Linked DNA regions of Homo sapiens. The protein of the gene in region 1 interacts with the protein of each later gene in a pairwise test. Each region holds a gene or a part of one and is shown on either strand. Other genes may lie near its edges. The genes, in order: PPP1R12C, THOC1, SPECC1L and EHHADH.

Evidence for each region.
Region 2: the proteins of PPP1R12C (region 1) and THOC1 interact in binary tests that used the Homo sapiens proteins (3 or more experiments, as listed by UniProt).
Region 3: the proteins of PPP1R12C (region 1) and SPECC1L interact in binary tests that used the Homo sapiens proteins (3 or more experiments, as listed by UniProt).
Region 4: the proteins of PPP1R12C (region 1) and EHHADH interact in binary tests that used the Homo sapiens proteins (3 or more experiments, as listed by UniProt).

What each region holds. Positions count from the first base shown.
Region 1 is NC_000019.10:55,093,609-55,100,640, forward strand, and holds part of PPP1R12C (protein phosphatase 1 regulatory subunit 12C), read right to left. Parts: intron 5,488-7,032; coding exon 5,343-5,487; intron 5,251-5,342; coding exon 5,176-5,250; intron 2,728-5,175; coding exon 2,654-2,727; intron 2,571-2,653; coding exon 2,443-2,570; intron 2,333-2,442; coding exon 2,259-2,332; intron 1,996-2,258; coding exon 1,837-1,995; intron 1,751-1,836; coding exon 1,683-1,750; intron 1,191-1,682; coding exon 1,053-1,190; intron 828-1,052; coding exon 737-827; intron 1-736. UniProt on the Homo sapiens protein: Regulates myosin phosphatase activity.
Region 2 is NC_000018.10:258,046-265,077, forward strand, and holds part of THOC1 (THO complex subunit 1), read right to left. Parts: intron 6,048-7,032; coding exon 5,981-6,047; intron 3,076-5,980; exon of another isoform or gene 2,673-3,075; intron 2,260-2,672; coding exon 2,141-2,259; intron 1,686-2,140; coding exon 1,637-1,685; intron 1,231-1,636; coding exon 1,135-1,230; intron 1-1,134. UniProt on the Homo sapiens protein: Component of the THO subcomplex of the TREX complex which is thought to couple mRNA transcription, processing and nuclear export, and which specifically associates with spliced mRNA and not with unspliced pre-mRNA.
Region 3 is NC_000022.11:24,322,828-24,329,859, reverse strand, and holds part of SPECC1L (cytospin-A), read right to left. Parts: coding exon 6,942-7,032; intron 5,641-6,941; coding exon 5,433-5,640; intron 1,015-5,432; coding exon 941-1,014; intron 1-940. UniProt on the Homo sapiens protein: Involved in cytokinesis and spindle organization. May play a role in actin cytoskeleton organization and microtubule stabilization and hence required for proper cell adhesion and migration.
Region 4 is NC_000003.12:185,190,093-185,195,050, forward strand, and holds the end of EHHADH (peroxisomal bifunctional enzyme), read right to left. Parts: intron 3,396-4,958; coding exon 2,134-3,395; 3' UTR 532-2,133; downstream 1-531. UniProt on the Homo sapiens protein: Peroxisomal trifunctional enzyme possessing 2-enoyl-CoA hydratase, 3-hydroxyacyl-CoA dehydrogenase, and delta 3, delta 2-enoyl-CoA isomerase activities. Catalyzes two of the four reactions of the long chain fatty acids peroxisomal beta-oxidation pathway.

The DNA.
Region 1 (7,032 bases):
CCCCTCCTCCCTCAGACCCAGGAGCCCAGACCCCAGCCCCTCCTCCCTCAGACCCAGGAGCCCAGGCCCCAGCCCCTCCTCCCTCAGACCCAGGAGCCCAGACCCCAGCCCCTCCTCCCTCAGACCCAGGAGCCCAGGCCCCAGCCCCTCCTCCCTCAGACCCAGGAGCCCAGACCCCAGCCCCTCCTCCCTCAGACCCAGGAGTCCAGGCCCCAGCCCCTCCTCCCTCAGACCCAGGAGTCCAGACCTCCAGCCCCTCCTCCCTCAGACCCAGGAGCCCAGACCCCAGCCCCTCCTCCCTCAGACCCAGGAGTCCAGGCCCCAGCCCCTCCTCCCTCAGACCCAGGAGCCCAGGCCCCAGCCCCTCCTCCCTCAGACCCAGGAGTCCAGGCCCCAGCCCCTCCTCCCTCAGACCCAGGAGTCCAGACCTCCAGCCCCTCCTCCCTCAGACCCAGGAGTCCAGGCCCCAGCCCCTCCTCCCTCAGACCCAGGAGCCCAGGCCCCAGCCCCTCCTCCCTCAGACCCAGGAGTCCAGGCCCCAGCCCCTCCTCCCTCAGACCCAGGAGTCCAGACCTCCAGCCCCTCCTCCCTCAGACCCAGGAGTCCAGGCCCCAGCCCCTCCTCCCTCAGACCCAGGAATCCAGGCCCCCAGCCCCTCCTCCCTCAGACCCAGGAGTCCAGGCCCCAGCCCCTCCTCCCTCAGACCCAGGAGTCCAGACCCCAGCCCACCCCACACCTGTGTGGACCTCCGAGACTGGCGCATGAGACGGGAGCGAGCTTTTCTCTGGGATTCCGACTCCTCATCCCGCACAGGCATCTGGTAGGACCTGAGGGAAGGGTCCCAACCTCAGACAGGGAACCTGGGGACCCTGTCCCATTCCGTGGCTGACACCCTCCGCGGGAAGCAAGTTCTGTGGGAGGGGACTCCAACTCCCAGCAGACCTGAGGCCAGCTCTCCCTCAGGAGCCCACCCAAAGCCCCGGGACTCCTGCTTCACATCGTCTCTCCCTGCTGGGGGCGGGGGCGGCAGCTTCCTGCCCTGGCCTCTTCACCTCCGTCGGTCCCGGGAGTCCGCTGGGGGCGCCGTGGAGGCTGTGGGGACGTTTGGCTTCGCTGGGGATTCAGGCTCCGGAATCCTGGAGGGAGGCGAGGAGTTCTCCAAGCAAGGAGGAGGCTTGGTGACCTCAGACCTGCATCAATTCATTCATTCCACAAACATTACCCAGGTGCATTGTGTGCCGGCACTGGAGATGCAGCCGTGAGTGAAAGAAACAAATTATCTGGGCCACAACAGAGTCAGAGCTGAGCAGAAATACACAAAACCCACAAAAGCCATGAAAAGACCAGCACACTACGCAACCGGTCAGAAGGATAAAGGACTCTGGACAGAAGCAGCAGTGCGAGAACTGAGAGCGGGAGGGTGTGCGTGTGCGGACGGCGCCGTGGTGGCAGCAGGGTGGTCAGTGTGCACCTCGGGGTGGGGGGAAGATAGGGGAGAAGGTGACGTTTCAACACAGACCTGAGGGAGGGAGAGAGCCCCCAAGAGGAACACAGCACAGGCTCTGGAGTGGCGGCAGGAACCAGACCCCAGGGGGTACATGGTCTCACTCAGGATCACACGGACAGGCTTGGAACCCACATCTGCCACCCACCCCTGAGGGGCCCAGGCCCTGGGGACTCACAGGACAGAGGGCTCCGGCAGCTTCGGGGAGGGGGTCGGGGTAATTCTGGCAAGACGGAGCTCCTTGGCCTGTGTGGAGAGGAGAAGGGGAGGAAGGGGCAGTTCCCTCGACTGGGCAGGGGCCTGGGCCTGGACCCGGCCCAACCCTCACTCACCTGAGTGGAGGTCCCTTCCAGCCAGGAGGAGGAAGCCGAGCGCTGCAGCCCAGCCCCAGGGGCTCCCTCCGCTGTCCGCCTTTCAGGGGGACCCAGGGCACCAGAACTCCCTGTCTTCAGGAGGCCAAAGCGCCTGGAGAAGGGGGCCTCTTCAAGCTGCTGGGAGAAGGAGGAGGTCTCAGTTAGAGAGAAAGGATCCCTCTTCTCAGACCTCAAGGGTTAGCCCCCAAAGGACTGCAACAAACTACAATTCCCATCAGCCCCCGGGGCAGGCACAGCCTAAAAAGGAAGCCGGTTGTCCAGGACGACTCTGGGAACTATAGTCTTCCCCCTATCTGCCCCTGCCAGAGGTTCACAGGCTGTATGGAATCCCACCTCCGGGCCCTCCCAGCCTCACAGGACCTCTCAGGGCATCCACTCACCACGGGACTCTTAGGGCTGGGGTGCGGCGGGGAGGAGACGCCATTGAGGGTTCTGGGTTCTGCAGGGGGTGGTTCTGTGATGTGGGAACACCGGGCAGGTCACAGAAGATGCCAGTTGCCTCTAGATTCAGAGAACCCGACCCCTCCTCCCTCGGACCCAGGAGTCCAGATTCAGGCCCCTCACCGGTGGGACCTTCTTCCCCCTCATCCTCGTCCTGGATGGGGGGCCCCCCAGCCCCACCAGGCCGGCGCTCCTTGGACAAGTCCTGGAGGGAAATCTTCTCGCGACTGCTCAGACGACACACAGAGCTCCTGTTGGGGAAGGAGAGGGTGCTGGGGTACAAGCCCGGGGCCTCCAGCCACCCCGCCAGCCCTGGACTCCTCCCTCCCTATACCTTCTGTGTTTGCTGCTAGAGGGCGCTTGGGGCTCCTGGCCCCGGCTCTGGGAAGCTTCTTTTTGGTTCCGAAGCTGCAAGGAGGGAAGGGGGCTGCAGGGGAGGGGTGGAGCACACGTGCCCCACAGCAACACCACCACAAACAGCTGTGCAGGAGCTCACTGCCCAGGCGGGCACCGAGGGCTCGTGGGCTTACTGGTTTTCCTACAGATGGCCACACACCTCAGGGGCAGGAGGTGCCCTGCGTCCAGCAGGCGCCCGCAGCTGCCACGTGCAGGCACTGCCGTCTTGTCCTCACGGCCCCCACCCATGAGAAGCCTCCAGTCTCATCCCCAGAGGGGTCCTTCTAGCTCCCAGGGGAGACCTGCTTAGACCTCACCCCGACCCCTCAGCATACCCAGGGCACTGGTGGGCCCTCAGCTGCCCCGGCTCCTGCAGCCGGCACTCGCCTCCTCCTTCCCCGCGCAGTTCACCACCGTCTTCACACCTTCCCCGCAGTTCACCACCGTCTTCGCCCCTTCCCCGCGCAGTTCACCACCGTCTTCACCCCTTCCCCGCGCAGTTCACCACCGTCTTCGCCCCTTCCCCGCGCAGTTCACCACCGTCTTCGCCCCTTCCCCGCAGTTCACCACCGTCTTCGCCCCTTCCCCGCAGTTCACCACCGTCTTCGCCCCTTCCCTGCAGTTCACCACTGTCTTCGCCCCTTCCCCGCGCAGTTCACCACCGTCTTCGCCCCTTCCCCGCGCAGTTCACCACCGTCTTCGCCCCTTCTCCGCGCAGTTCACCACCGTCTTCACCCCTTCCCCGCAGTTCACCACCGTCTTCACCCCTACCCCGCGCAGTTCGCAGTTCACCACCGTCTTCACCCCTTCCCCACGCAGTTCACCACCGTCTTCACCCCTTCCCTGCAGTTCACCACCGTCTTCACCCCTTCTCCGCGCAGTTCACCACCGTCTTCACACCTTCCCCGCGCAGTTCACCACCGTCTTCACCCCTACCCCGCGCAGTTCGCAGTTCACCACCGTCTTCACCCCTTCCCCACGCAGTTCACCACCGTCTTCACCCCTTCCCTGCAGTTCACCACCGTCTTCGCCCCTTCCCCGCAGTTCACCGTCTTCACCCCTTCCCTGCAGTTCACCACCGTCTTCACCCCTTCCCCGCAGTTCACCACCGTCTTCGCCCCTTCTCCGCGCAGTTCACCACCGTCTTCACACCTTCCCCGCGCAGTTCACCACCGTCTTCACCCCTACCCCGCACAGTTCGCAGTTCACCACCGTCTTCGCCCCTTCCCCACGCAGTTCACCACCGTCTTCACCCCTTCCCCGCGCAGTTCACCACCGTCTTCGCCCCTTCCCCGCGCAGTTCACCACCGTCTTCACCCCTTCCCCGCAGTTCACCACCGTCTTCGCCCCTTCCCCGCGCAGTTCACCACCGTCTTCACACCTTTGTACTGGGAGGGCCCTTCATTCCTGCCCTTCTAGCAAACTCTTAGTGCTGTAGTACTCACGTCTTCCAGAAAGTGTCCCCAGATGCTCCCAGGCTGGTCTCCCCCCATATCTGGGCCCCCTGAGCTGACCCTGCCCCACCTATTAAACCCCTCATGGCCGTATCACCCTCAGGATGGAAGCCACCATGCTCCTCGCCTGGCACTCGTGGCCCTCCCGGGTCTGCCCTGCCTTACGCTCCCCTCCCTGGGCACCTCAGGGCACCCACACTTGCCCCCCAGCCTGTGTGAGATCTTCTCCTACATCCATCAGCCTCCACTTCGCTCCTGCCAACCTTTCAAAAGAGGAAGCTGTCTCCGCTCCCCTGCCCACGCACCAGAAGCCCTAGGCCTGGCCTTGGGAGCTTCCTGTCACCTCACAGAGCTCACTGAACGCTGGCATGGCTCTAGTGCTTTCCAGGGGCACGTACTCCCCCGAGCTCCTGACAGCACAATCCACGTGTCACGCATGACCCCTCATACAGTTGCGCACCATACCATTCCCATTTGACAGATAAGGAAACTGAGGCCCGGAAAGGAAAGTGGCTGGCTGAGACTCACGGCAGATCCATGGCAGAGCCGGGATTCCAACCCAGGCAGTCTGGCCAAGGCTCACGCCCTTCACTCCTTCACTCTAAGTTTTCCCAGCAAGGCTGCCCCGGGGATGGCTGGGGGACACCTTGTGGGTGACCAGCCCAGCCTGAGTCTAGGACAATCCTGCACATGGCTGCTGCCAAGGGCCACCCTGAGGTGATGAGGTGTGCTAAGCAACCTCATCAGGGTGTCAGACAACCCTGTCCAAATCCTTCTGCCGCCCCCACCACCAGGCAGGCAGGAAGCTCTGCAGCCCCATCTCTGTCCTGCCCCGGCTGGGGGTCTCTCCTGAGGCTGGGGCTGGGGCTGGGTCACCAAGAGGGAAATAGCAGGTCGCTGGGGTGGTGGGTGTCAGAAGTCGGGGGGGTTCCCCCTCTGCACCCTCCTCTGAGGAGCTGAGGGGACATGGGGAGTCTGGGGTAAGCCCCTCAGCCCTGACACTCACGTCCTCCTGTTTCCGGGCCAGTTCCTCCAACAGGCTCAGTACTTCCTCATCGGCCAGGTCACAGGGACGCTGCCCCTGGGTCAGGGGAGGAGCAGGATCAGACAATGAAGGAGGTGCTGGGCCCTCCCCACGCCCTGCCCCTCACCAGCCTGGGCACTGGCCCTCACCGCATGGGTCAGTGAGTCCATGCCCCCGCCATGCTCGGCCAGCAGGCGGCAGGCATCCTCCACGCCCCAGTGTGCCGCTGCGTGCAGGGGAGTCCAGCCGTCCCCGTCCCGGAGCTCTGGGTCGTAGCCAGCCTGAAGGAGCAACCTGGGGGCCAGGGAGGCTCAGGGTCAGAGGCCAAGGCGGGGCCCTTGGCCGAGGGCTGATTTCGGCCAGCGGTTTGGTAACGAGGTCCCAGGCCACGAGACTGAAACGTCCCTGGACAGGCTGGTAAAGAGCCACTGCCCAGCATCCGCTGCCACAAGAGGCCCCTCTGCACCAGGCCTTGTCCCTCCCCTTGGACCAGCAGTTACATGTTAAACCCTGACCCTGCAGGTGGCCTCTGGAACCTGCTCCTGGTGCTGGCAGGGGGTCACCCTGGCTGTGGGATTCCAAGGTGGCAGCAGCGGGGTGTAAGGAGGCAGCTCCGGAGGATGCAAGTGCAGGACCCTTGCCAGCCCCCATGCCTGTCAGAAGGATGGGACCCCCAAAGGGCTGTCTCAGGGCAGTAGTGCTCTAGGACCCGGGCTGGCTTAAAGCAGTGACTCCCAACCAGGGCAATGCTGTCCCCCAGGGGAGACCCGGCAGGTCTGCAGACATCTTTGTTGTCATAACTTAGGGCAAGGGTTAGCGGCATCGGCTGGGTGGAGGCCAGGGAGGCTGCTCCACACCCGGCTGCGCTCAGAGCGCTCAGCAGCAGCCCCACAAGGAGAGGGACCTGACCCAACATGCTGCCAGCGCCCAGGCTGAGAAACCCTCACCCGAGACAGTGTTCTGCGAGAAAACAATAACCACCTTAAACCATTCAATCTGAGGGCAAAGGCAGGGTTACAAGTCCAAGGCCACTCTCCAAGCTCAGCTTAACGGTAGGACGTGTCTATTTTTGGAGAACTGGAATGAGTTTCTGTGTCAATGAGAAAGAGCTTCACAAAGTGGGAACAGATGGACAGCCTGGGATATTCTACAAAGAGGCCTTATAAGCACAAGTCCCTCTCTCTGGTCCCGCCCACCTTGCCCTTCACCTTTCCCACGCTTTGCCCGGAGCTCACCCTGCCCCAGCTGTGCTGGGCCCTCGCTATTTCCCCAAGCGTCCGCTCGCCGCTGGCCTCTGCACTTGCTGCTCTCAGCCGGGCAGTGTTCTGTGCCCTGCAGCATCTCACGCTGAGCCCCTTTTTGGCAGTCACCACCCCCTCATCCCCCTGTCTCCTGACCCCAAAGCCCCTCCTCATCACACTTGTCTTCTCCCATAACCCTATTTATATCTTAAGCCAGCAGTTCTCAACTGGGGCAATGCTGCCCCCCAGGGGACATTTGGCCACGTCCAGAGACATTTTTGGTTCTCACAACCAGGGATGCTCCCAACATCCCATAGGTGGAGGCCAGGGAGGCTGCCCCACATCCTGTGATGCATGGGACGGCCCCGCAGCAAGAGCGATCAGCCCAAAATGTCTGTCTCCCCACGAGGCTATGAGCCGCACACAGGCCCAGATCTGTCTTGTTTACCCATTTCCCTGGCACCTAACAGACTGCCTGGCACACAGCAGGGGCTCAAAAATAAGCATCGAATGAGTATCATCAAATAAACATATACCTCTACTCTGCAACAAATGTTTTTTTGTTTTGTTTTGGTTTGGTTTTGTTTTGAGACGGAGT
Region 2 (7,032 bases), on another chromosome or scaffold:
TTTACACAGAGATACATCATAGTAAAACTAAAAGAAAACCAAAGGAGAAAAAAAATCTTAAGCGCAGAGAAAAAAATGTAGATTATCTTCAAGAAGTGAGACTGACATCTGACTTGTCAATAGAAAAATGGGAAACAGAAGACAAAGTAAAGATTATTTCCCGTGAGATGAAATCCTGTATCTAGTGCCAATCTAGAATCTTATACCTATTGGGAGGAGGTCAAAATACCAATATTAACAGGAGTTTGGAAGAAAGAAAGGAAAAAAAATAAAGGAGAAGTAACGATTTTTAGGCAAAACACAGACCTGCACTGAAGAAAAGTCTAAAAGGGAAAATGATCACAGACAGAAAGCCAGAAATACAAGAAGTGGTAAATCTATATTAACCCTGACCACATAAAATAAGTATGAAAGAAAACAGCACAGACATAAGATGACAAAAAGAAAGCACATAAACCACTGCTAACATATGCTATAGGTCTTTCTACATGCAGGCACTAATGTAAGCTCTTCACATGTTTTAATTCATTTAATCCTCAGAACATATAAAGTAGGTGGTACATTAGCCCAATATTAAGGAAGGGAGGACTGAAGCAAGGAGATATTAAAATCTCGCATATTTGAACATACTGGGGAGGCGGAAGGCTCTGGAGGACAAGCAATGTCCCATTTCAGGAGCTAGATAGTGGTTATACAGTATTTGTTTCATTATTATTCGCTTTATGTACTTTTCTATATGAGCGTTATATTTCACAATAAAAATTTGTTAAAAAAAGAGAAATGAAAGGAAGTCTATATAGCTAAATAGTTGTGACTGAGAGAAAATCCAAACACAAAAATAGGCATACATTATGAAATACGGATATGATGGTTCATATCTACATGTTTCAGTGTGATTCAACTTTACATTAATAAGCTTTGAACTTAAAAGAATCCATGACTTTGTTTCAGGATTACCTGTATTATATACTAGGACTGCTATACATTTATAAGTAAAAGAAAATAAAGTGACAATTTCTATGATGTCTTTCAACTTTTTAGAACCATTTTTCTCATTATCATGACAGATTTTAATCTATTAAAAACTGGAAAAGATTTTCCTGCAGAAAACTCATTTAATGCATAAAAGCTTACCTGATTTCTCAGACAGAGGGAAAAGCCTGGCCAAAAAGAGCTGAATCCGTCCACAGAAGACTGTATTCTGGGATTTAGACAATCTTCTTAGGAGATCTAACAATATATGAAAATGAACGTTACACAGAAAAGATAATTCTATGTTTATTACAACCACACCTAAAAGTTTCTAAACCAGTGTGTCAAGAGTATTTTCCTAAAGCAGTAGTTCTTAAATTGGGGGCCGAAACCACTGCCACAAAAAAGTACTATAAATTAGGAACAAAACAAGTTCAACATGACATGAAAAAGACAAACTTTACTACGTTTCTGACTTTAAGCTTATGCCCAGAACAAAAACAGTTTAAAGTGAATAATGAGTTCTAACAAATCAGATTGTTAGTTAAAAATGCAGATACCTAATCTATCTTTAAAATGTTATCACTGGTATTTAATTCAACCATGTGTTTTTCTGGGCATATTTACACTTAAAAAGCAATCATTTTATCACTCAATTACTTACCATTGCACATACGTAGTAAGTAATTTTTCCCAGCAGAATAGAATGTATTCTGAAATTAAGACGGAAATTATCACTCTTCTTCAGAACTTGTTACACATTCTTCAATAATAAGTTGCCAGAGTGAAATATTAAAGAACACTAACATGCACTGAGAATCTACTATGCCACTTTCACTTTTTTTAAGCAAATAACATTTTCAATGAAATAAAAATATTTTCAGATATAAGAAAACATGATACTAAGTAACTGTTTTAAACATGTGAAAGTGTGAATTTTCAAGTTAATTTTTATTACACAAATTAAATCAAATTTTGTATTTCAAGTTTTTCTCCACACATGGTTTTTATTTGGCTCTCCCGAGAGAGCAGTATATAATTTTTTCATAGGCAGAAACTTGTTGGCATTCAGCAATACTACAAATAAATTTAAAAAAAAAAATCTACCCTCAGAATTCTGGATCTATAGAAAGATAAAGTTAGCAGGAAAAGAAACTAAGGCACTTACTGATTTCCAAGTAGCAACATTTTTTTCCACAAAAGTGAATATTGTGTCACACTGATCCAAAGGAAGACAATCCAAAACATCTCCCAACAATACAAAAGGTGTAGATGCGGTACAAATACCTTCAAGTGGAGCACAAGCCAATTTAAAAGTTTAAAAAACTGTAGAGTAGAATAGCCTATGAAAAATAATTCTGAAGAATATCTTAAAAGGTACACTTTGTTACTCATAACAAGGTTTTAAAAGGACAAGAAGTGGAAGCAACCTAAAAGTCCCCAAATAGGACATACTTAAGTAATTTTTGATATGTGCACTCAGTAATGATGACAATAATTCTTGACAAGATCTAGAGCATTTACTATATGTCAGGCACACTAAGTACTTTACATATACTAACACATTTAATCCTTACAATCCTATGAGGTAGAGCATATCATTATTTGCATTTTATAGAATGGGAAAACTGAGACACAGAGAGGTTAAATAACTTCACCAAGATCATAGAGCCAGTAAGTGGTAGAGCTGGGATACGAACCCAGGCAGTCTGGCTCCACAGTCTGTTTTCTTCACCACTAAGCTATTCAAAAGAATATAATGCAGCCAATTAAAAATGATGGTTATAACGACTATAATAACTTGGAAAAATGCTTATGATATAATGCTAAGTGAAAAAAGGCAGGATTCAAAATTGTATGTACATATGGTTATGACAATAAAAAAAATTCTTAAAAGACTATAGAAACTAAAACCATTATACCAGATGAATGGTAGCTTTTAAAAGTAGAGGAATTAAGAGTACTGTTTTCCCTTCTTATTTCTAAATGTTTTGTAATGTTGCTAAATTGTCTTTGTGATTTGAAAAGATTATCTTCAAAAAATAACAAGGTTTGATATTAACTATGATTCAACATTTAAAATAACAGTATTGTTTCAGGGGAAAGAATGGAAAAGTAGAAAGTTACTGTTTAAAGAACAACAAAATTAAGATTTTTCTTAAGAAAAGGTCTACGTAGTCTATCTAGACTACTTAGAATACTTTTATATCCCTACTCATTCTTCCTTCTATTTTAAGGCAATGAGTACTTACTAACACTCATAAGTGTTTAAGAAAAGTAGTCACTTAGGCATGGTATATGGAGGAAAAATATCTAGGGTGATCTAAGCCCAAAACAGTGCATTAATATACTATGTCCAGAAAAAAGGAAGAAATATTTCCAGCTGTACTCTGCACTAGTAAGATCATATCTGGAATGCGACGTGAGGGATATTGCCTAGAAGCAGTGGGTGAAATAAAACAGCAGATTTCAACTCAATACAAGGGAACACACCAATAACCACATTTGTCTAACAGGACTCAAACAGTGAGCTCCACTAATGAGCATGATTCAGCAGAGGCTGAATGACCACCCACCAGGGATGTTACAGCAGAGAAGCAGTCTAGGCCAGAGATGAGACTGGACTAGGTGACCTCTAAAGTCCCTAACAATACTTAGATTCAATGATATTATATACCCTGCACATCCAAGAGATTTGAGAAGCATATTTTCTGCCCTTAGTTGCAGTATAGCCTGGAATAAGTTAACTCACATTTAATAATTATAGAACTTTTTCTAGATTCTACTGCCAAAATTCTGAGTCAGTAGAACTAAGCAAGGTTTGGGAATCTCATCTAAAAATAGATTCACTGGTGGTTCTGATGAGCCAGCAAGTCTGGGAACCATTGGGTTATAGTGTGATTCCCCCAAGAGCTTTCACAACCTGTGTCCCAGCTTCCACACCAATCTCTCTCCTTACCCTTACCTGGGCCACAGACATCCCTTTCTAGTTCCCACTCCCCAGTTCCCAAACACCATGCCATGTTCATCCTTCCATGGTTTTGTTCACAATGTTGTTTTCTGCATACTCTTCCTCCTCTTTACCACATGGTAAATTTCAACTCCATCTTTCTAAGCATAGAGTGAATGTCAGCTCATCTAAATAACTCTGATATCCTGAAGCAGGCTACTTCATCTATGCTTTTGAAGCACACTCTACATAAATATACTGTAGCATTTAGCACATCCTAACTAGTCACCTTTGAATGTAGACTATGAGCTTTTTAAGGTTAGGCATTTTTGTATGCTTTAACCAGTAGCATCTCACACTGAATAGAAGCTCAATAAATATCGGCCAAATTGAATTTAACAAAATATATTTATGGATAATTTAAAAACATGTCACATAACCAATTATAGTCTGTCTCAAAAAGAAAAATTATCCCTAAAATAAAAATGCACTATGCCTTTACAGTTTAAGCTCTTAAGTCCTTATCCTTCTCAAAAGTTCCAAGTATAGACTAGACTTTGTACAACTTCTTCATTAAAAACATCACCAGCTGTGCAAGAATAATGTATAAAGGTAATCAATGAACTCAGGACACACTGAACACTGTTTGACTGAAACTAGACAAGGAATATTACATTGTGGGACTCAGCTAACTATGCCTAATGAATGAATGATTAGGCAGCTTGTATAAACATTTAACAAAGTGAATTTATGAACTTAAGTTCATAAAATAGTTTGCCCCTATACTGGGAGGTGTGTGCCAGTTTTTATAGAAGCATCAAAATAACACATAATGTGAATAATGCTTTACAGATTAAAAAGGAGTTTTCACATATATTATTTGAATTAATCAAATGAGTATTTTAACCAAATTGGTTAAAGAAGAATGCTGATAAACTAATTTTTTATTTCTTCTTTCTGCATATATTTAACGAGCTCCTATTTTGTGTTAGGCTCTGTGTACTATGTGCATTGTTTACCCGAAGTCTTCTAAAGCTATCACACACAGCCATTTTAACAGGCTCCTGCCCAGTTTTCCTGCCAGCAGTCACTTCAAATGGAATCATTCATCTGCAGCTGCTCTTTTTTTTTGAGATGGAGTCTTGCTCTGTTGCCCAGGCTGGAGTGCAGTGGCTCGAGCTCAGCTCACTGCAAGCTCCGCCTCCCGGGTTCACACCATTCTCCTGCCTCGGCCTCCTGAGTAGCTGGGACTACAGGCGCCCGACACCGCGCCCGGCTAATTTTTTTATTTTTAGTAGAGACGGGGTTTCATCGTGTTAGCCAGGATGGTCTCGATCTCCTGACCTCATGATCCGCCCGTCTCAGCCTCCCAAAGTGCTGGGATTACAGGCGTGAGCCACCGCGCCCGGCCTGCAGCTGCTCTTTAGTATGGCACCCAGTGCCCTTTATAAATGGACCTAACCTGCTTCTTTCCTCATCATTCTCATTGTCCTCTCCTCCTCCTGCTGTACACAATTCTCTAGCTATTCCTTTCTTAGTATGTCTAACAAATTCTTCATACCTCACATTCTAGTTCTCATGTTCTTTTCTAAAACCTCTCCTGACTCCTTTAGACTGAAGTTTAGAGAGCCATGTTGGCTCTATTCCCTCTAACTACACTTCATTCCCACTTCGACCATAGTACTTACACCATAGTAAGGCATGCATACATCTGTTTCTTCCATTAGCTCCACATAAGCAGGGGAATATGTTTTATTCACCATTGAATCTCCAGGTCCTAGCTCAGTACCAGGCACATAGTAGATGCTCAATGAAAATTTACTGAATGAACAAAACAACTGGAGAACAAAGGAAGTGCCAAAATGTGCACTGCATAATAGAGATGAGAAATAAGAGTGAACTAATTCAACTGGGACTTCTTGGCAAAGTTGGGAGTCAGGCAGAACTTGAAGAATAAACAAAATCAGATAGGTGGAGAAGTATGGGGAGAAGACGTTTTAAATAAAGCATGTCATGTCCAAGATTACTTTAAACAAAACAAAACGGAACCATACTTACCTTCAGTTACTCCCCCAATAGCAAGAGAAATAATAGCTAAAACGTTTTCACATGATGAATGATTTATCTACCAACAGAGGAGAAACAATTTAATTTAGGGGCAAGAGTTCAGACTAAACTCGATTAACAGTAAAAACATGTACTCTGATATTAAATTGACTATCAGAAATATGGAATACAATATTTCTTATAGAAAACAATATTTTCTAATATGAAGTTACCAAAATTTAACAGTAACATATAGAATCAATAGTCGTAGAAGTATGTCAAGTAACAGGCAACTCACTCAAAATCCAATGGTCTCAAGAAAATGGTTATATTAGCAAGATGAAGGCTATAAGCTAATCAAGGACAGAAGTGCTGAAGCCATAACTCAGCCAGTGGCACAGGGCAAAGGCAGGGCTATGAGAATTAACTACTAATACACCCATGTGTCTGAGGGGTGGTTTTAATAGAAGGAAGACAGTGCTTAGGTTCTATAAAATCATAATAACCAGCATTTACTGAGTGTTCATTAAGTGCTGTTTTACACACAACAACACTGAAAGAACGGTATTTCCCCTCTCACAAAAGAAACTGAAGCACAGAAAAGGAAAAGAACTTGCCCAATGCCTCACAATGGAAAAGTGACTAAGTCTGAAGAAAAGGAAAGAATCATTTTTTAATCAGACTTGTCTGAGAGAAAGGGACATTGTACTATGGCCAATAGAAGGGAATCTAGCTTTTGGGGACCCAACCTTTGCTTGACCAAGAATAAACTGTTGAAACTTTTCCTTTCATTCAGGTGCCCCATTATTGGTAAACAAATTCAGATTTTTCATGGTTAGACTTCTCTACCGAAGTTGGAGAGCCCTCAGTTATTTATGTAAGTTTACTGATGAGGAGGATGCCAGAGGAAAATGAGGGAATGGAATCCCAGCTCCTAAGCTAAATATTCTTGGACTAGACCTTTTGCGCCACTACAGGATGTATCACTGCTTATACAGGAAAGTGAGAGAGCCCACCTTCACCTCTAGTTCTTCCTAAGACCTCATGTCAACTTTTCTTATCTC
Region 3 (7,032 bases), on another chromosome or scaffold:
ATACAGTGAAAAACTATAAATAGCCTGACATCAAAATCTAACAGGAAAAAAAAAAATCAAAAGAAAAGGAAGAGGAAGAGGAAGCCAGAAGAAAAACACTAAACTCAATATAGGCAGGCAAAATTATACAAAGAGGCGGTAAGGAACTACGTGGTCTGTTGCTTCCCACAGTCATGGAGGATGCGGGTGTGGCCGGGTGGGGAAGTCTCCCTGGGACTCACCTCCATCAGAGCCATAGCTGGGGCATGCCTGAGCCCCACGCCCCCTACACCCCTAAAGCAATTTTCTTACACCATGAAAGCAGCCTGAGCAACTGTGGTATGACCCAAACGACTGAGTAGCTTTCTCCCTACTCCCTGCAGCATGGCTGCATTGCTGTTGGCAAGATGGATCATGGCCACAAAATGAAGAAAACTTGTATGAAAACAGACTAGTTTGGGGCACCTTATAACCAAAAGCTAATAACCTTTCTTACACTTTTTCCCCAAATCTATCTTTCTAAAATTACTACCCATAAATTTCTACAGGTCGAGTATCACTTATCCAAAAGCATTTCAGATTTAAGATTCTTTGGATTTTGGAATATTTGCACTATACTTAACAGCTAAGCATCCCAAATCTGAAAATCCGAAATCCAAAATGCTCCAATAAGCATTTCCTTTGAGTATCATGCCATCACTCCAAGAGTTGCAAATTTTGGAATATTTTAGATTTCAGAATGTCTGGTTAGGGGTACTCAACCTATAGTACATTCTTCTACCCAAAATCTAGCACCAATCCCAATTTGAAATGATAGCATTTGCTTTCTGCCCAAAGCCCAATGGGGCCAGTATTATCACTGTATCCAAAACTTAAGATGAATGATAACATGGTCAATGACTACACCTCAGATTTCAGAAAACCGTTTTCTAACAAGACAATACATGAAGATTTATCCTACCCGAAGTCTTCTGTGGAGTGTCTTTATTTCTCTTTCCATGTCGTGCTTTTGGTCCTGGAGTTTTTTAACTGTATCTGAAAAGATCACCAAAGTTTAAATATCTATTCTCACAACAATCTTCAGAGTAATAATACAAAGAAAAGGGATACTTAAATATGACATTCGAAAAAAGTTATCCTGTCCAAAGACTATAAAAAATTTTAATACAAAACTTTAACAGAAAAAATGTTAAATTCAAGTAATAACAAATATTACTTTCTTTGGAAAATATCAAGTTAAAAATCACAATTTCTAAATCACTTCCTTCCACAGTATCTTAATTTTGAAACAAAAAGTAAAACCGTTAGAAATTCACTTTGTTGGTACATAACCAATCAAAACAATATTGACTGTGACTACAATATGAACTTTTAATCACAAGTATTATTAATCTGCAGTATTTATATAAGCATAGCTTTCCTTACACACTGGAATAAATTCCAGAAAAGAAGTGAATTAGTAAAATCAAAATTAGTAAAAAATATAATACTCAGGGTAGCTGCTGTTTCAATTAATTCTATAAAAATCTTTTTAAAAAATAAAGAATATATTTATAAAGTAAATCAATAATTCCTCAAATTATTTATCCGATAATGTGAATTTTCTTAGAACAATTTCATTCACTCTAAAAACATTCAATGAGCACCACCAATAAGATGCAAAGTACCATTCTAGATAGAGTGAGGATACAAGGATGAAAGTGTAGCACAGGCTAGTCTCCCTGGAACCAGAAACGTAAAGGGAAGTCACCTTCTCTTTGGAGGTTCTACTCTAAAATCCATGCATAAGAGATAAATGACTTAGGAGGGTGCTATGCTGATAGCTGCCACTAAGTAAACCGCTTACGGCTGTGTTACTTTGACAGCTCAGGAACCAATCACTTTTTGGTTAAGGGCAAGAAAGGGTACTTACACAACTGGTGGCAAATCCTTTACCCTGATTTACCTACAGCCCCACCCCAGTAGATCCCTGGCTGTTGTGTGTGTTCCAAGTGTGTCTTACACAGCCTTGTACCATGTTGCCGCCAATATTACCACATCTCGACACATCTGTCTCGACCACTAGACTAAAAACACTTCAAAGGCAGAAGAAGCCATGTGATGACCTCACAGACTCAGTAGTTGGAATATGGTATCTTTAAAATGGAATAAATTTATAAATGTGCCAGCTAATGGTAGCAGTAATAAAAAGTAATGCTGAAATCGTTACCTAGGTTTTTGTTTTTTTTTTAATAAGTATCCTATTGACAGAACTTAACGATTTATCATTAGGGAAAACATAACTATAGACATTAGTGTTTCTGGGTAAATAACATTCTCTCCCATTCCTTATACTTAGTAGCAGGAATTCAGGCATAGTGAACACCTGCTTGCAATGACACATGTAATCAAAAAATTCTTCCTCTAGCTAACACTTTATTGGCTTTTAATTAGGACCCTAAAGTATGAGTATGCTGATGTTCTTTCTTTCTTAGATGGCTCATCATCTTCTTTACCCCTGTTCCACTAGAACCTTCTCTTCTAAAATTTTTTTGCCATTATGCTTTACATTTGATGTTGGTATATGTGTGTTCTGATGTTTTTTTTTTTTTTTTTTTTTTTTTGAGACGGAGTCTCAATCTGTTGCCCAGGCTGGAGTGCAGTGGCATGATTTCAGCTCACTGCAACCTCTGCCCCCTGGGTTCAAGCGATTCTCCTGCCTCAGCCTCCTGTGGAGATGGGATTATAGGCGCCTGCCACCACGTCCAGCTAATTTTTGTATTTTTAGTACAGACGGGGTTTCACCATGTTGGCCAGGCTGGTCTTGAACTCCTGACCTCATGATCCACCCGCCTCGGCCTCCCAAAGTGCTAGGATTACAAGCATGAGCCACTGCACCCAGCCAGTGTTCTGGTATTTTTAAATGGCATGAATTCACTTTAACAACATAGAGCCTAGAATATTTACAACAATTATATGTGGAATAATAATTATTACAAATAAATAATAATGCTGTATTTTCTAAAGCTGGATCAGAAATAAATGGGATAAAACGTTGGCGGCAGGGGCAATTCTGGTAGGCAGTAGTTAACTTGCTCTCATTCACTGCCCCAAAACTGTGTAACAAAGTCAGGTCCTGTGAAATAAAAAGGTTCAAAATTTACTCTTTAATTTGATAAATGTGTCATATGTACCAACTTTGTACCAGGCTTTTTTCTAAGTGCTTAAGATGTAAAGGAAAGGAAAGATATAATCTTCATCCTCTTAGAGACAGAAAGGCTAGTCTTGTGTTGAGACAACAAGGGTAGATGACTTCATAAGCAAAAGATTAAACTTTAAAGCCTGTCTCACACATAAGGTACTTCAGACTCAACCTGCAAACGAAGAGTCAAACAGGCCATCTAATCTGGTTTGGGTAAAGCAGACACCAAGCTGAGTAGACGAGTCTAATGCCCTGATCCTTATCTCTGGAGGCAAGGATGGCTCTGGAATCAGCAAGGGAACTTGGTTCCTTGCGACCTCACACATAGACAAATTCAGGGTTTTGGACATAAGACGAGGAGTAAGGACAGAAGCTGAAAAATTTCTAATGTTGAAAACACTGGGAGTTACACCTTTCATTTACATTGTATCAATTTATATGCAAGAAATATTTCATAATCAAAACAGGCGGTCAGGCGTGGTGGCACAGGCCTGTAATATCTGCTGATCACCTGAGGTCAGGAGTTCGAGACCAGCCTGGCCAACGTGGTGAAACCCTGTCTCTACTAAAAATAAAAAATTAGCCGGGTGTGGTAGTGGGCGCCTGTAATTCCAGCTACACAGGAGGCTGAAGCAGGAGAATCGCTTGAACCCGGGGGGCAGAGGTTGCAGTGAGCCAAGATGGTACCACTGCACTCTAGCCTGGGCACCAAGAATGAAACTCCATCCCAAAAAAGCAAACAAACAGCAAAAAACAGGCAAGCAAACAAAAAATGTTAGGAGTGTAATTTCTCTTGAAATTTGCTGAAAATTGTTTTCTTTTTCTTGTCACAAAGGACATGACACATCTACTTACTGTTAAACATAATACACACATGACAAATGACAGCAAATCTCAGGACAGCTCACTTTTAACATTTGGCATTTTGATTCTCAGGTGACATTTTAAGCTACCTGGTCATCTTAGACTGATCATAAATTCTCAAGTTGCATTCATTCCTTTGCTCTTTTTCTCTTTATTGACCTTTTTTCATTCATGGCCACAGAATTCACATAATCACTGTTCTTTAAAAGGTGTTTTTCTGCCCCCGGCACTACATTTTTATTACTGTCACCTCTTATAAATAAATAAATAAATAAATAAATAAATAAATAAATAAATCCATTTAAGTAAAAGGGAAAGTGGCAGCCAGTGGAAATACTCAGACAGAATAAAATGCACTAAAAGTGTCTGTAGGGATTTGATTTAAACTTTACAATCTCTACAGTCATGACTACGTTTTTACTCTGAAATGGAATGTATTTTTTTTTCCTGGAAACAAAGGAATTTGTGCTTAAGTTCTTGTTGTGAAGACTAGTTTGCAAAACTGCCATCTAGCACGATTTGTGGTCACACAAGAAAGCAGCATTACTCTTCAACTCTCGAACCTCTAACAGCAGTTTCCTTCCTCTTCAGTGTTCCTACTGTGAGGGACACTGCCATCTACTGTCTTCAACTCAAAAGCAACATTCAAGTCGACCAAGGAAAAGAACTACTACTATGATCTTCCTATTTTTAAATTACAAATTATAACTCAATTTTTACAATGTTATTTTTATTCTAGAGATCAGGCAAACTGCTGTTCTCAATGTTATTAGACCAACTTTGTTCTGAACAACTCTGGGCACTGCCCTACTCATTTAATAATGGGTTCATAACTTTTGAGTCCCATTATTGATTATGAACCCCATTATTCTCTGACAAAAAATAATCCATTCTCGCTCTGGTTATATCTCCATCAATCATGCTGATATTGCCAGGCAGTTACCATGGACACAGGATCAATCTGTGACTTTTTCTTTTCTGTTTTGAAATAAAGTCTCACTCTGTCACCCAGGCTTGACTGCACTGGCACAATCTCAGCTCACTGCAGCCTCCGTCTCCTGGGTTCAAGCGATCCTCCCACCTCAGCCTTCCAAGTAGCTGGGATTACAGGCACCTGGCACCACACCCAGCTAATTTTTGTATTTTTAGTAGATACGGGGTTTTACCATGTTGGCCAGGCTGGTCTCAAACTCCTCAACTCAAGTGATCTGCCTGCCTTGGCCTCCCAAGGTGCTGGGATTACAGGTGTGAGCCACTGTGCCCAGCCTGGTTCGGTTTTGAACTCCCAAAGTGCTGGAATTACAGGCATGAGCCACCGTGCCCAGCCCTATTTTATTACTAAATGCAAATTATCCCCGCATGTTTAAAAGAGTAGGACAAAAAAGAATGAAAAGTTCTTATCACTTACTCTCTAGATCAGAAATAATGAGGTTGTCATGAAGTTTCACAGCACGATGTTGTTCTACTTCATCTTCAAGTTCAAAGATGGTTTCTTTCATGTCACTCCTTTCTGTTTCTTTTTCATCCAGGTCTGATCTTAATTTTTCTAACGTCATATTCAAATCTTCAATTTGTTTCTTAGCTTCTTCTTGGAAGGCTCGGTATTCATCCTCTACCTACGTAAAATTGACGATGCAGATTTAGAAAAGTTAAGAGTTGTTCTAAGGTACGTTCCAGAATTGAGGTACACACAGTTTCCAAGGGGAGCTAAGTATGAGGCACTATGGATAAACTAAAACAACCTGTGTAATAACTGTTAAAAAGTATGAAAAAGCACTCCATGGTAAGATTTTATCTAATACACTTAAACTGTTGCTGTAACACTGACTGAAATTATATTGATGTATCATTGAACTTAACCTGATTATTTACAAGGAAACTTTGGAAATTTTCGTTTCTCCTAACTTTGGACTGAAAGCATGTACGTTTGTTTAATGATTAACATGTTGTCCTAACAAAAATGATGTCATATTTGTGACGGTTCCAGTATCAAACTGAAAAAGGGAAAACAATTCTCAAATAGTGTTTTTACAAAAGTATTAGTTCACAGTAGCCTCTCAACATGTATGTGCCAAGAACTAATACAAATCTCCTAAACTGTAACTTTAAAAGTGATCACTAAAAACACCCTAAAATCTAAATTACTCAAATTTTAGCCAAAGATATATGAAAATTTATTTTAAAATCATTGCACTAAAATAACAAATAAATAAAATGTAAGCTAGAATAACTAGTATAACTAGAATAACTCATGGAAATAAACAGTTCATCAGCAACCACATGGGGTATAGATAGATCCCTGGCCAGAATGCCAGTGGCCCTGGGTAGCAGTTCCAACTGAGTCCTCACTATTATGCTGGAGGCATGTACAACAAGGGTCTGGACTGATAATTGCTAAGGTCCCTGCCAGCAATAAATCACAGGCCTCTGAGAAACAGGAGCCTCTATATGCCAAAAATATTTTTTAACTATCAACAGATCTCTATTTGAAAAACTATTACTATAGCAAGATAAGAGGAAACATGCACTGCTGATGCTACAGACTGGAATACTGACTCTCCACCTATTACACCAAAACAGATTCGAGATGAGGCGGGGGGAGGTAAAATTTCATGACCCGCTCCATAGGAATACTCAGAACTAGGGACAAATTCTGGTTTTAGCTGTAATACCAGCCATATCCTCTCACAGGCAGGAAAACAGAAACAAAATACAAGTGAGAGAAAGTGACATTATCTTAAGAATACTTTTCACACTATTCCAATAAAAGGAAACCATTCCCAAGTTTTAAAAATATCAGTTTTAAAAAAAAGCTAATAACACACCAAACCAAACCAGTAACCCAGGTTCTCAGTAAACACTGTGCATGGCAGCTGCCTAATGCTGTCCGGAACATTTTAATCTATTTAAACAATACCTTAGCAATGGCATCCTGTAATCGATTGGCATCATTTCGGGTATGAGCCAGATCTTCCTGCAAGCTACTAGCCAAAGTCTCTGCTTTTTCT
Region 4 (4,958 bases), on another chromosome or scaffold:
ACAAACTTTATCATAACATTTCAGGGGTTATTGACTCATAAAACCTATTCATAGACCCTCTAGTTTCAAAATCTCAATCTAGGCCAAGCGTGGTGGCTCACGCCTGTAATCCCAGCACTTTGGGAGGCCGAGGCAGGTGGATCATGACGTCAGGAGATTGAGATCATCCTGGCTAACATGGTGAAACCCTGTCTCTACTGAAACATACAAAAAATTAGGCAGGCGTGGTGGCGGGCACCTGTAGTCCCAGCTACTCAGGAGGCTGAGGCAGGAGAATGGTGTGAACCTGGGAGGCAGAGCTTTCAGCGTGCTGAGATAGCGCCACTGCACTCCAGCCTGGGCGACAGAGCAAGACTCCAGTCAGAAAAAAACAAAAACAAAAACAAAAAAACAAAAAAAACCCCCTTAATCTAGAGGCCACTGTAGGGTGAAAATAAGTTGTAAGAACTCAAAATTAATTCCAGGTTTGAAGAAAAAGTTAGTGGGTTTTTTTTAACACTGATTTGAAAGCAAGTCACTTTGGAGACAAAATTACTACTTTCAGGAATCATTTTTATTGATGTCTTTAATTTCACAAACCAAATTATATAAAATTAAGTAGTACACATTTCAAACATAATAATTGTGCTCTGTACAATTCAAGGCACACTTGGATTTTTTGTTGGTTTTTTGTTTGCTTTTTAACAACGGAAAACTTATACTCCATTCAAGATTTTTCCATCAGAACTTTAATCATTTTATTTGGGTTCACAGGTGAAAATATTGTGAAAGTTCATTTACACCACAATGAAGGATAACATCTTCAGCCCCATTTATTTACTAACAACTTTATTGAGATATAATTCACATACCATATAATTCACCCACTTAAAATATACAACTCAATGGTTTTTAATATATTGTTATGTGACCATTACCACAATAAGTTTAGACCATTTTCATGAACCATAAAGAAATCCTGTACCCATTAGATGAATCCTGTACTCCCCATTCATCACCCCCAATTCTAGCCTTAGGCAACCACTAATGTACGGAAAGTATTTTTTGTAGAGACAGGGTTTTGCTATGTTGCCCAGGCTGGTCTCAAATTTCTGGCCTCAAACAATCCTCCTGCCTCAGCCTCCCAAAGTGCTGGGATTACAGGTGTGAGCCACTGTGCCTGGCCCTTTATTTCTTTTTATGGCTGAATAATATAGTCCATTGTATGGATATACCAGATTTGGTTTATCTATTCATTAGTTCATAGACATTTGGGTTGTATTCAGCTTTTGGCCATTATGAATAATTCTGCTATAAATATTTGTGTACAAGTTTTTGTATTGACCAGCCCCTTAATTTTTAACTACACAAGGCAAAAAGTAAAAAGAGAAGAACTCTTACAACAAAATCATACAAAATATGTTTTGCAACAATTTTAGATTTTTCAAGATTCAACCATTTCCATATGTAACATCACAGAGGCTTGTCATGACAGGAAAACTGGTGTCATTACTCTATCACAGAATTGGGAAATCCTAGAAGGTTAGATGTTCTCTAAGACCCTTCTTACACTAAGTTAACGACTTACTACTTTCTATTATTTCTCCATAAACAGAAGAGGAAAGACCAGAAGAGGAAAGGCTTGCCACACTAACCTAAGTTCCCTGTGCTGGTTTGAAGTACTCAGTTCCCTTACCAATTTCCAACTGTCTTTTTCCTACAACTTTAATGTTTGTTGAGTGTATGTATGATTCATAAGATTTCTGATCAATACTATGTGTGTGACATTGAAAGGAGTCAAAATGAATGTATGACTTAGCTGCATTTATCATTTATTAATTGATGACACATTTATCCAATGATAAAAGCATTTGAGAATCTCAACTTATGCCTGAGCCTCTTTCATTAGCTATTATGGTATTATATTCACACAAGTTCATGCATTGAATTTATCTGATAAGGACAGATTCAGAGGCATAGGAAGCACATTCCTAAAGATTTGACCATTAGAGTCGTTACACAGAAGATTCTAATGATTATTTATTTTGCTTTGTATTTCAGAACAATCTTACTTTGGATTTTTGATTTAATTTCACTGAAATTCAGTCAGCATTACCTGATGCTAGCATGTGAGGCATAATCTGGAAGACTGAATCACAATTTACTGCTAGGGGAGCCTGCCAAGCTTTGCCATTCTTTCAGGGGAGGGTTTCCCTGAGAAGCCAGTTTTTTTAGATAGTCACTTGGCTCCAGTTGGGGAATATCAGGGTTCTGCCTGTAATATTTCTGCAATTTCTCTAGAACTGTGGGCAACCCAACTGTGGAAGCATAGAACATGGGCCCGCCCTTGTGCCTTGGCCATCCATATCCATGTAAATAGACAACATCAATGTGCTCTGGGCTAGCAGCTATCCCTTCTCCCAAGATACGGAATGCTTCATTGATAAGTGAATATAAGCAGCGTTCAAGGATCTCATCCTGGCTAATGGTACGTGGTTCAATGTGATGGGTTTTTCTATACCGTGATAGGAATTTGGAAAGCCAGGGATCAGGTTTGTGAATCCTACCCAATGGCTTGTCATATTGATACCAACCCTTACCTGTCTTCTGGCCAAATCGTCCTAATTCACAGAGCACATCAGGAATTGGGCAGTACCTCCTATTACCCCTTTTTCGGGCAGGAGTTCCTGGAAGCAATGTAGGTCCAGTAAGACCTTGCCCCTTTCTAGATTTCCAGCCCACATCCAACCCAGCAAGATCAGACACTCTAAAAGGTCCCATTTTAAAACCAAACTCTTCCAGCACCTGATCTACCTCCTCTGGTTTGCTGCCTTCTTCTAACAAGAAATATGCCTGATTGTAGTAAGGATTCAACATTCGATTCCCCACAAATCCAAAACAGTTGCCTACAACGACTCCAATCTTTTTAATCTTTTTTGATAAGTTCATAACAGTGGCAATGGTAGTGGGGGAAGAGTATTGGCTGGGAATAACCTCTAACAACTTCATGACATGAGCTGGCGAAAAGAAGTGGGTGCCAATGACCAAGTGAGGACGATCAGTGGAAGAAGCAATCTCATCAACATCCAGGGCTGAAGTATTAGTGCACAAAAATGCTTCTGGTTTGCACACAGCTGAGAGTTCAGCAAAGACCTGCTTCTTCAGGCTCATTTCCTCAAATACTGCTTCAATGACTAAATCTACACCACCAAGCTCCTTCACAGATGAAGTTAACCTGGGTTTTGGTCCTGACCAAGGGTGGCCGCTCTGTTGCATTTTGGAGGCTTCTTTTTCCAAGACAGAGGTTATCATCTTGTTTGCAGTTGCTAGCTGGTTTTTGTCCGAGTCTACAGCAATCACAGGAATCCTGGCCCTTGCAAAAGAAATGACAATGCCTCGGCCCATTGTTCCCAAGCCTGCAGATAAAAATCAAAGGAGAAAAAGAATGATTCAGTGGTATTGGGAACTGATAAATTATTCACTGGATGGAAGGCTTATGTGACAATGTGGCATTTAAAGAGATTGAGTCAAGAAACACAAATGGATTGAGTACTAGTTAAGACTCTGCACTCTCTTAAGTGTTTCAGAGGATATAAAAATTAGTCAGATTCACACACACAAATAGAAGCTATACAAACTAATAAATGAGTCCAACGAGATTGTAGGTACACAATTGATATACAAAAATCAAGTATATTTCTATATATTAGAAATAAACAATCTGAATATAAAATTAAAAGAAACAATTCTACTTACAATAGCATCAAAAAGAATAATACACAGGAAGAAATTTAACAAAGAATAGGAGGATTTGTACACTAAAAAGTACAAAACATTGTTAATAGAAATTAAGTAAGACCAAATAAATGGAAAAACATTAAATGTTTTTGTATCAGACAACTTAATATTGTTAAGGTGGTAATACTACCCAAATTGATGTGAAGAACCAACACAATTCCTATAAAAATCCCAGCTGGTTTTTTGCAGAATCAATAAGCTGATCCTAAAATTCACATAGAAATGCAAGAAATCCAGAAGAGCCAAAACAATACTGAAAAAGAACAAAGTTGGAGGATTCACTCTTCCCAATTTCAAATTGTATGACAAAACTATTCAAGGTTGGGTGAGGTGGCTCGTGCCTGTAATCCCAGCACTTTGGGAGGCCAAGGTGAGAGGATCACTTGGAACCAGGAGTTTGAGACCAGCCCAGGCAACACAGTGAGACTCCAACTCTATAAAAAATTAAAAATTAGCCAGGGGGCCAGGTGCAATGGCTCACACTTGTAATCCCAGCACTCTGGGAGGCCGAGGTGGGCAGATCACCTGAGGTCAGGATTTCAAGACCAGCCTGACCAACATGGAGAAAACCCGTCTCTACTAAAAATACAAAATCAGCTGGGTGTGGTGGTGCATGCCTGTAATCCCCACTACTTGGGAGGCTGAGGCAGGAGAATCACTTGAACCCAGGTGGCAGAGGTTGCAGTGAGCCAAGATCGCACCATTGCACTCCAGCCTGGGCAACAAGATTGAAACTCTGTAACAACAACAACAACAACAACAACAACAACAACAACAAAAATTAGCCAGGCATGATGGTGCATGCCTATAGTCACAGCTATTTGGGAAGCTGAAGCAGGAGGATATCTTGAGCCCAGGAGTTTGAGGATTGCAGTGAGCTATGATCACACTACTGCACTCCAGCCTATGTGACAGAGTGAGACCCTGTCTCAAAAAAAAAAAAAAAAAAAAAAAAAAAAGAAGCCTATAGTATTTAAGACAGTGTAAGATAGTGGTCATTGCAAAAGGATAGACATATAGATTAGCAGAATAGAACTGATAGCCAAAAGCAAACCCACACAATTATGGCCAATTGATTTTTAACAAGAGTGCCAAGAACATTCAACAGAGAAAGTATAGTCTTTTCAACAAATGATGCTGGGACAACTGGATATCCACATGCAAAAGAATGAAGTTGGACC